2 separate regions of the Homo sapiens genome follow, and region 2 is linked to region 1. The links come from fine-mapping of genetic effects on gene expression. A gene starts in region 1. The other region holds a variant in brackets. All regions are shown on one strand. Distances are between the middles of the regions.

What was found.
Region 2: its variant is fine-mapped to the expression of USP9X in whole blood (TOPMed, PIP above 0.99).

What each region holds. Positions count from the first base shown.
Region 1 is chrX:41,083,003-41,088,002 of GRCh38, forward strand. USP9X (ubiquitin specific peptidase 9 X-linked) reads left to right here and starts at 2,443. Exons shown (of 45, transcript NM_001039591.3): 1 at 2,443-3,107. RefSeq lists enhancers at 1,394-1,688, 1,438-1,977, 2,516-3,053 and silencers at 1,598-1,667, 2,098-2,477, 3,178-3,637.
Region 2 is chrX:41,229,765-41,235,198 of GRCh38, forward strand. USP9X (ubiquitin specific peptidase 9 X-linked) reads left to right here. Exons shown (of 45, transcript NM_001039591.3): 43 at 1-15; 44 at 737-832; 45 at 2,623-5,434. The coding sequence ends at 2,760. Among named protein-coding and RNA genes, the nearest start is that of LINC02601, 43 kb to the right of the region's middle. The variant A/G (reference allele first, on the strand shown) is at 2,924.

The DNA of each region.
Region 1 (5,000 bases):
GGTGGGGGGGAAACTCCTTATCTGTATGAATTTTAGCATCATCTTGTCCATTTCTGCAAAAAAAAAAAAAGCCTGCTGGGATTTTGATAGGGATTGCATTGACTCTGTAGATCAATTTGAGGAGTATTGCTATCTTAATACTTTTATTTCAGTCTTGAATGTTTTTCAATGATGTTCTGTAGTTTTCAATGTACAAATCTTGCATTTCTTTTGTTAAATCGATTTTTAACTTTATTGATTTTGATGCTATTGTAAATGGAATTTTAACTTAATTTTCAGATTGTTTATTGCTAGTGTGTAAAACTATAACTGATGTTTAAATATTGATCTTATATCCTGCAGTTTTGCTGAACTTGCTTATTGGCTTTATTTTTTTTATAATGGATTTCCCAAGATTTTCTATATATAAAATCATGTCATGTGAAAGTAGCGATAGTTTAATTGTTCCTTTCTTATCTGGATGCCTTTCATTTCTTTTTCAGGCTAGAACTGCAAGTACAATATTGAACAGAATTGGTGAGAGGGGACATCCTTGTTAAAGGTGCACTTTTGATAGGGTTAAAAGACCAGTGTTCAACACTTTCCAATCCTGACTTCGGGCAAATCATTTACCCTTTCTGTTTCCTTATCTAAAATAGAAAATAACAGCCTATAGTGTACGCGGGTGGTCGTGTCTGCTTTTTAGAAGCCCATGAGCTAGTGGGGAAGCAAATGATTCATGGAAATAATTATAAAAACAAGGTAACATATGCTAAGAGTTATTAGGGCTATGAATGATACATCTTGGATACCCTATTAGATAATTTGTGGTGAAAAATTTGTAAACAATCTTGTGCTAAATAGAGAAATGGTTTAAAAATTTAAGATACCAATAACTTGCTTTCACTGTCACCTACATTAGTTTGGTTCCATTTTTAACAGTCTTTTATTACAAACTGATATAATCATAGCATAACTAAATTCAACCCTCTTCTCTATAAAATAGATCTCGGTTTGTAGGGTTTTACTATGATTTTGCATGCCATTTGATGTCCACAGGTATTTTTTAAGTCAAAAGGAAATCTGTAAATTAGGAACTGTTAATTTCCTCTTCATTTGGGCATCCTAGGTAGACTGTACAGATTTGTTCCAAGCACCCCATTAATTTGAGATTAGCCTAAGTTTTTCCTATGCCCGCACTTTGGAATATAAACATGTAGAAAATAGTCCATGACACAGCGGATGGGTTCATAAGTTTCTTCCGGGTCCTAACACCGAATTGTGCTGATGATCTGGCAATGGAGGCTAATCTTGCCACATCAAGTACGGCCTATTCGCTAAGCCGTCTGGGGCACTTTATAATTTTTTTCTTTGCTGGTCTGTTTGAAGGGCTCCTATGGCCAAAAAGGTGGTCAGTCCCGTCAGCTAGGCTGTGAGGACGCCTAAACGCTTTGAGGACGCCTAAACGCTTTGAGGTAGTGATGATGCATGATCGTGTGAAAGAGTTTCTCAGAGCACCTCCCTCGCGGGGTGGGGAAAAGGACCTCACTCCCCACGCCCCCTCCTTCCGCTGCGGGAGATAGCCACACCTTCCCCCTATCGGCGCCAAGCAGGTGGCCAGGCCCTCGGGACCTCGCGCCCCCGCAGCCAGTGGCCCGGCCAGCTCGTGCGTCACGTGACGCGGGTCAGCTGCACCGCCGGGACCTCCAGGCACCGCGGCGGCGACCGCCCAGCGCGTGGTCTCGAGATCTCATCTTTCCGCGCCCCTCCCCCCACGGTCCCGGAAAAGGGGGAGGCCGGTGACGTCATCATCCGGGTTCTTGTCGGCGGGGCTACGGTTCACAATGGAACAAAAACAAGCGGCCCGAGTCAAACTATGAGCGACGCGGCTGCGGCTCACGCGATTAACCCTGTCGTGGCCACACACCCCGCCAGTCCCTGCCGCCCAGCCCCTCCCGAGTGGTGTGCCAGATCTTTTCGGGCCTCCCTTCCCCAACTTCGGTCCTAGAGCCACCTCTGCCCTCGTCCCGCTCCTGAGCCGAGGGGCATGGAACAGGATTTCTGGCCGTAGCACGACCCTGAAGGGGCCAGCCGGAAGAAACAGTACTGCGCGAACAATCTTTACCGCATTGTCTTCCCCTCCCCCACCCTAGCTCTCCGGGTTCCCGGCGGCTCGCGCCGAAGCCCGGCCCCCTCAGCGGCTCGCGCTGCTCTCCCAGCCTTGACGGCCCGGGGTGGAGGGAGAGAAGAGGGGGCAGCTGAGCGGGAGGGGGCTGGGCAGGAGCAGGGGGAGGGCCGAAAGGAGGGGCCTGAAAGGGGCGGGCCCTGACGGGGGCGGAGAACTTCGGGTCTTGGGCGGCTCTGGGGCTAGTGGGAGTCTGCGCCGCCGCCGCCGCCGCCACCGCTGCTGCCGCCGTCGCCGCTACCGCCGCCGCCACTGGCCGAGCGGTTTTTTTTTTTTTGGTTTGCCGGATCCGCCATATTGACGAGGACGGGCATCCGCGGCTGCGGACGCTAGTCTCCGCCGCCGCCGGAGCCGCAACCTCTCCGCACCCGGCCCCGTCAGGGCCTCTGTCGCGCCTAGCCCCTCCCCGCCTTACACAGCTCCCGGGCCTCGCGGGAGCCCGCCGCCGCCGCCTCTCTCTCACGGGAGGCGGCCGCCTTAGCGCCCGGTGCTTGGGTCGGCGCCGGGAGCGAGGAGCGAGCTACTTCAAAGCCACCAGGCCTGGAGCGGGGACAGAGGCGGCGACTAGGGGAAGGTGAAGCCGTCGCTGCAGGAGGAGGAGCAGGAGGAGGTGACGCAGGAGAAACGCACCGCCCGGAGCCCGTCTGAGCTCAGCGAGAGCCCCAGCCTGAGGGGAGAAGGGGAAGAGGGCCGTCGCCGGCCAAGGAGGAGGAGGAGGCGGGCGCGGCGAGGAGCGAGTTCCGGCGCCGGTGTGCAGCCTTTTGGTTGAGACGCCCGCAGCCCCGAGCCCGGCCGCCGCAGCCTTTCGATACACTTTGTTGCCGGTCACCCCCGGGCCTGGGATGCACCCAGGGTAGGTCTCGTCCCGGGACCGAGCCCCACCGTCGCCTGGTGCCTCCCGCCTCCGTGTGCCCTGGTTGTGAGAAGACGTCTGTGTCGTGCGGTGAGTGGCCAGCTGCACTGGGGCGACGCTCTTTCCCGGGGCCAACAGCTGGATGTGGGTGAGGGGAGGAGGGCGAGGGGGGTGTGCGTGTGTGCGAGCCTCTTCCCTCGGCGGCTGCCGGCCAGGCTGGGGCTTCCCCGTTCCCCCTCCTCCGGCCCGGGCTGGGCGGGCGCGCGGGCCCGTGTTGTGTGTGGAGCCGGTGTCCCGAGAGCGTGTCTGTGTGTTTTGGACTGTAAGGGAAAATGGCTGACGGCTCCGTCCCTCCCCCTCCTCCCCCTTCCCGTCCTGTCTGGGGCCGAGTAGGAGGATGGAGTCTCCGGGCGTGGCGGGCAGCCCCCCCGCCGTCCGCACCCGGGGGCCGGGTCGGTTTGGGGGCTGGCCGCCCCCCGCCCGGCGGCCGCTTTCCTACCCGGTCTGGTTCCACTTGACACCAAACGCCATTACTGAGGTGGAGTGATTTGGAGCTGGGGAGCTAGGCCTCGGCTACGCCTGGCTATCAGGCCTGACGACTTGTCCGCCTCCCCCCACCCTCCCGCGATAACCCGCAGTTTCTCCCCGGCCCTGGGCTCCTGGAGTGGGAGCTGGGTTATCGGCCTCCTACACCTCCTTCGCCCCGCTTTATTTGCAGAGGGCCAAAGCCGTGAAAGGGGTTTTTGAATGCAGAAATCGCTTCCAAGCTAGCTTGGACCTATTACCTTTCTATTTTTAACTGTTTCTGCAAATATTAGCATGTGCGAGTTTGGTAGTGATCAGGTCTTCAGATTCTTGTGACGTGAGGCTTAGGGTTGGATAAATGGCTGATTTTTCATTCATTGTGAAATAAGTTAAAGAGTTATACAGCAGGTGTGTAGATGGCTTCTTAAATTATTTGTGTGGATTTCTGTAGCGACTAGAACTTACACGAGAATTTGCAAAATTTCTAGTAGAACCTGCTTAAATTAAGCATGTTATTTTTTGGAAGTTCCATAGTTACAACGTTAATTGAATTTACACGGTGCAGTTTACAGGTGTATATAATTGCTTCAGATTGTCTTTTAGTTTAAATAAGCAAGTTGTAGGTATAGATTAAATATTCATGCTTTATTTTTCGGGGAGAGAAGTATGTGTACTGTTCTTTTACCTGGAAACCCATGAGTCCCTAAATCTACTTAACGTTTGTATACTTTCACTTTTGAGGAAGAATGATTTGGGGTGCATTGATTAGGAAACTTTCCAGCAGGTACTTAACCCTCTCGGAGCTGATTACCCTTAGGTAAGGACTCCTTAACCATGACTAGCTTGGCTGGTTAGTACACTTGAACTCAAAAATAGAGACTATAAACTCTCCTTTAGATCTCGCTCGTCTTCTAATTCGCTGGGCTGCCATTTTGGTTTCAGCAAATACCTTCAAATTCTTGAAGAATTATGTATTAAATATAAAAAAGTGTCAACATTCGTTTTCTCAATTTTTAAACTCATGTGCTGTGTCATACATCTAACTTTAACCCTTTAAACTTTATCGTTCCAGCTTTTGGGTGGAGTGAAAGCTTGAAGTATTTGGAATTGGTGTTCCACAGGTGAACTCAAAATGTCTTTGGTATTTTACTGTTTTATTTTCTCTAATTTAAAAATAGGACGTTTGGACTATATGAATTCTCTCTACCCCTTTTCTTGTATTTTTTTGCATGAACATGTAACTTGTAATTCTGGTTATCAGCGTTCTCATGTTTCTTTTGTTTGCTGACCTTGGTAGTTTCTGAGAATTTCTGGAGGGAGTAATAGCACCAGCAACAGTACATGTGAGAATCTTAAGTTACTTCAGGAAGGAACATTGAAGGGCAGATTTTACCTTTCACCAGGTTATTGGGGTCTCTAGTTTGGTGTTCCATAGTCCATAGTTCTCATGGTTTTGTT
Region 2 (5,434 bases), 150 kb after region 1:
CTCTGTCCAGAGGAGGTAAAAAAAGCCACCAGTGTGCAGCAGATAGAAATGGAAGAGAGCAAAGTAATTCTTTATTTTATAGGCCAGTGTTTATGTATTAATGATATTATTAAAAGATTATGTTGAAGTTTTGGGTTTTGAAAAATGTTTATTCGGCTGGGCATGGTGGCTCACGCCTGTAATCCCAACACTTTGGGAGGCCGAGGCAGGCGGATCACCTGAGGTCAGGAGTTCAAGACCAGCCTGGCCAACAAGGTGAAATCCCATCTCCACTAAAAATAGAAAAATTAGTCGGGCGTGGTGGCAGGCGCCTGTAATCTCAGCTACTTGGGAGGCTGAGGCTGGAGAATGACTTGAACCCAGGAGGCACAGATTGCAGTGAGCGGAGATCGTGCCAGTGGGCTCCAGCTTGGGTGACAAGAGTGAAACTCCATCTCAAAAAAAGAAAAGAAAAGAATGTTTATTCTATGTCATTTTAAGCTAATGAAGGGAGCTTTCTTTTGGAGAAATTTCTGTGAAATTGCCTGAAATGTAGTAGTTCTGAGAGAATGCAAATCAGGTTTTTTGTTTTGTTTTTTTTTTTTTTGTTTTTTCCCCAAGTTCTTTATCTGCAGTAAAAGAAAAGTTGCTAATGGGTCAGTTTTGTAGATTTTTAAAATTTATTTCAAATAGAAAAAGTTAAAAGTAAACTTGAGTTTGCCTACGTAATTTTTTATCTTGAAATATTCAAAATTAGGAGCCAGATGACCAAGATGCTCCAGATGAACATGAGTCGCCTCCACCTGAAGATGCCCCATTGTACCCCCATTCACCTGGATCTCAGTATCAACAGGTAAACAGGAGTCAGTTTATGCTTTTATCCCCTAGAACTGGGTTTTATGCTTAATTTTAGAGGATGGCTCAATTGTTTGTTGTGACTACAAAGTAAGAAGTAGGATTATCTAGACTAGCTTTGGGAGCATGATCCAGAAGAGGGATGGTTTGGAGTGGGGGTCATGGTGTAACATGTTTGAACTTAACCACTGTAGGGTTTTCCTTGTCAAGAAGGTGTCCTTCTTGTGCTAGTAGTTAATAAAACTGTATGAGAATTTATATCAACATAAAATGATCATTGTTTAGTGCAAAGGATTGTGGTGACATTTCCGGTGAGGTAAAATCTTCACCTGGATTCCAAAAACATTATTAAGATATGGCAATGAAGTAAGAAGTCCTTGGTTACTTAGCCACAGGTTTCAGTGATGGTAAAAATCACTGGAAAAAAAAGGATTTGGGTAGATTTCCATAGGTGATTAAAGTAAATAAACTAGTAAATAGCAAAAGAAATGAGATGAAGAAACATTCTAAATGATAACTTTTTCTTTCTGAAACCAAAATGTGACTAAATCAGCTCTTGTGAGGCAGTGGTACTCAAACTTGCACAGGCGTGAGTCTCCCTGGAAGGGTTGCTCCAGCAGAGAGCTAGATGCTACCCTAAAGTGTCTTATTTCATAGGTCTTCAAGGGGCTGGAAAATGTACATTTCTAGCAAGTTCCCAAGTGATGCTGCTGGTGGTCCAGGAACCATACTTGGAGAAACATTTCAGGCATTCTTTCTTACATTTCACTGTGTACATAGAAGCAAACTGAATAGTTAGGAAGTACACATTCAGCGTACTTATTTTCATCTATAGAAAGTAAAGCCTGGCCAGGCGCGGTAGCTCATGCCTGTAATCCCAACACTTTGGAAGGCTGAGGCAGGTGGATCACCTGAGGTCAGGAGTTTGAGACCAGCCTGACCAACATGGAGAAGCCCTGTCTCTACTAAAAATACAAAATTAGCCGGGTATGGTGGTGGCGCATGCCTGTAATCCCAGCTACTCAGGAGGCTGAGGCAAGAGAATCTCTTGAACCCAGGAGGCAGAGGTGGTGGTGAGTCGAGATAGCACCATTGCACTCCAGCCTGGGCAACAAGAGCGAAACTCCCATCTCAAAAAAAAAAAAAAAAAAGTTAAGCCTAAAATCTTGGCTTGGCTGATGGAGCATGTACAGAAAAATGAGAGCACTGTAGGGTTCAGACATTTTAAAAGGTTAAGGAACCAAATCCACAAGGAAGGTTAACTTCCTTTGACCCTGAGAAAGCTCTTATGTTAATCATGCCTGGTTACTTTATCATCTTGAACATTGTTCTGTTTTTAATCAGCATTATTGTGAGTTCAGGGTTACTGCTCCTATATATCTTACATCATGGTTAGTCAATCGGATTTAGCATGTGGAAGAGTCAATAGATGCTCATAGATCATTCTCTGAAAATTTTTTACCAAGAGCAACAGTGGGTTAATCCTTTATTTGCCAGACTTGAGTCTAAATAATTTTTGGCACTAAAAATCACTTTGGCCAAAGATTTATGTGGACCTACACAATCACTGCTCTTATTCAGGGTTTTGGGGTTTGCATTTACACTACGTTTTTCAAGCCTTTTTTTGTTTTTGTTTTTGTTTTTGTTTTGCACTATAGTAGTCCAAGGGTATTTACAGAGTAAGTCCCAAGAATAAGAGTATACATTTCCAGAGACTTCAGACCATGATTTTGAAGTTGTTTTACTATGTGAAAAGTTTTAACATACAGATCTTTTCTCCTTTCCCAGAATAACCATGTGCATGGACAGCCATATACAGGCCCAGCAGCACATCACATGAACAACCCTCAGAGAACTGGCCAACGAGCACAAGAAAATTATGAAGGCAGTGAAGAAGTATCCCCACCTCAAACCAAGGATCAATGAAATGCACATAATTAACTGGTTCCATCAAGACTGTGCACCCAGGCCTTACAGTCCAACCTTTTTCTGTGTCTGGCTAATATTTAAAACTAGAAAAACTATTCCTAATCAACATGGAGTGGAGAGTTTATTCACTGTCTTATCTGCAGAAATTTGCTGTCAATAT[A/G]TAACCCGCCTGCAGTGGAAAGTGTATAGTGTTTTGTAATAAATGGCCTGATGCTAATGTGTAAATGGCAAAGGTGTATATAGTATATTAATGTTGACTGTTAATTCTTAAGCAAGAAACTTTTTTCTTGATGAGACTCACAGATCTACACAAACTACAAAAGTTAATTTTCTTGTTACACCCACTGCACTCTGCAACCAGTGTTGCCTGCCTCATGGCAGTTGGATCAGCTCCTTTACAAAAAAGAAAAAAAAAAAACCAACAGCAACAAAACAGAGCCCATCCATGTCAGCCACACCAATAGTTTCATGTTAATTCTTTGCCACTGGAGTCAATTTTGCTATGAGCAATGTAAGGCTGGTAACCTTTAAATTATTTGGTTGATGTGGAAAATTGGTGATGTAACACTGTTTCTAGATTTTTTTCATTGCCTTTTTATTCTGATATTAGGTTAATCACTTTGAAGCTATAGTTATGCTGTAACATTTAGCATGGCTTCACACCAAGTTAGTGTAGCCAATGAGGAAAAAGTTACCATAATGACAGCAGTTGTCCGAGAAGTGACAGCTGTATTACTCAGAGCTTTTACTTCTTACACCTAGAATATTAAAATATAAAACAAGGGGAGAAATGTGACAGTCTATTTTCAGTTGCACATATGTTCCTTATATATAATGTTTGACAGTTCAATCTCTGGGTGGAATAAAGAACACTTACGTATCAGTAATGGGAATTTTTAAAGATTTAAAACAAATATGCAAAAATTTGCTATGCCAAGATGCTGGAGCATAATATAAGACTGTATTTGGTGTGCTTGTTTTGTTTCTTTGGTAGAGTTTATTAGGTGAATCTTCTAAAACTTTCCTTCTGTTGGATCCCAGTGACGTGGAAGTCATCAGAACCCCACGGTACTTGGAGTACCTCTCTGCACCAAGATAGCTGGCTGATTTTCTGCTCAGTCACAATTTTACTTGAAAGCAAGAATTGTCCTAGCTCCTTTTCCATTATTCCAAAACGTTTAACGTTCAAAGCAGGGTCTCATTAAAAAAGAAACTACTGGTTGATATAATTGAGATATTACAATTTCAGAATAAACATTTGATTAAAAATAAGGAAATCCTCAGTTCATACTGTATTTAAAAGAGAATTGGTAACTTGAATGTGTGTAATTTTTTGGAACCTGTCTAAAAACCAAATACCCCTGCAAACAGATACAGCCCACCCTATTCTATTTAAATATTTTGCTGTTTTATTTTATAGAAATTATTTTGCTGAATTCACAAATAGAATTTGATTTAAGAAGAACTTTTTGTCCTGTGGTGTGTTTTTGGTTTTTTTTTTGGTTACTTTTTTTGTCCTTTTTTTTTTTTTTTAAAAGAGGACTGCATATTAAAATTCATTCTGTGCATAGCATGCCTAGGCATGACACTGATTCAGGATTTCAGTCACATCAAGTTTTTGTGCACAGAAAGATTTGACCTTTGGCCCTCTACTGAAGATTTTGAGAAATCAGGATGTTGACACTGTAAAAGTTTCCTAACATAATCTTGTACTTTTTGTATGTTTTTTATATACATGTATATTTAATGAGCACAAGCTTGGTTGTATTTTTTACAATTCAGTTAATAGGGAAATGTTTTGTCAAAAGGCTACACTTGGAACTGAACAAAGCAGAAACAAAATTGAGCATTGCATTATTTTGTGATTAAAAGGGGCAGGTATTTAAGATAAAGCTTTGGGTATCTTATTTGTAGTACTGTATAGTCAACCTGTGCTTCTAGGTGTTCCTGTAGGACATTTTGACACCGATACTTTGAGTGAAAGTCACACACGGTGTTTGCAATTCCAACTGATTTTTGTTTTGTTTTTATTTTTTTGTTGTTTTCTTCTTTGAGATGGAGTCTTGCTCTGTCACCCAGGCTGGAGTGCAGTGGCACAATCTTGGCTCACTGCAACGTCGCCTCCTGGGTTCAAGCGATTCTTCCGCCTCAGCCTCCCGAGTAGCTGGGATTAGAGGTGCCCACCACCACGCCCAGCTAATTTTTGTATTTTTGTAGAGACAGGGTTTCACCACGTTGGCCAGGCTGGTCTTGAACTCCTGACCTCAGGTGATCTGGCCGCCTCGGCCTCCCAAAGTGCTGGGATTGCAGGTGTGAGCCACCGCGCCTGGCCCCAGTTGATAGTTTTTTTAATTTAAAAGTTCCTCAATTCCAAGCTCTTTAAACGAGTGAAATAGGTTAACTTTATTTGGATGAGTTAGGTGTACCATCTCACCATCTGAGAGGAGATTTATATATTTCCTGCTGCTCCTTAACAAAATATGTAATGTACTTAAAAACTTTAACGACTTCCTAGTTGAGAGAAAACTTGACATATAAAAGGCTGTGAATTTTTCTGCTTGGAGGAAGAGCCCAACCTTGGTTGCTTTGAAGTTACAAGCCCCCTTGTGCCAGGTGAGGGGCTTGTGAGTCATTTTTGTCTCCATTTGAGGAAGAGTGGTATTCGTTGTGA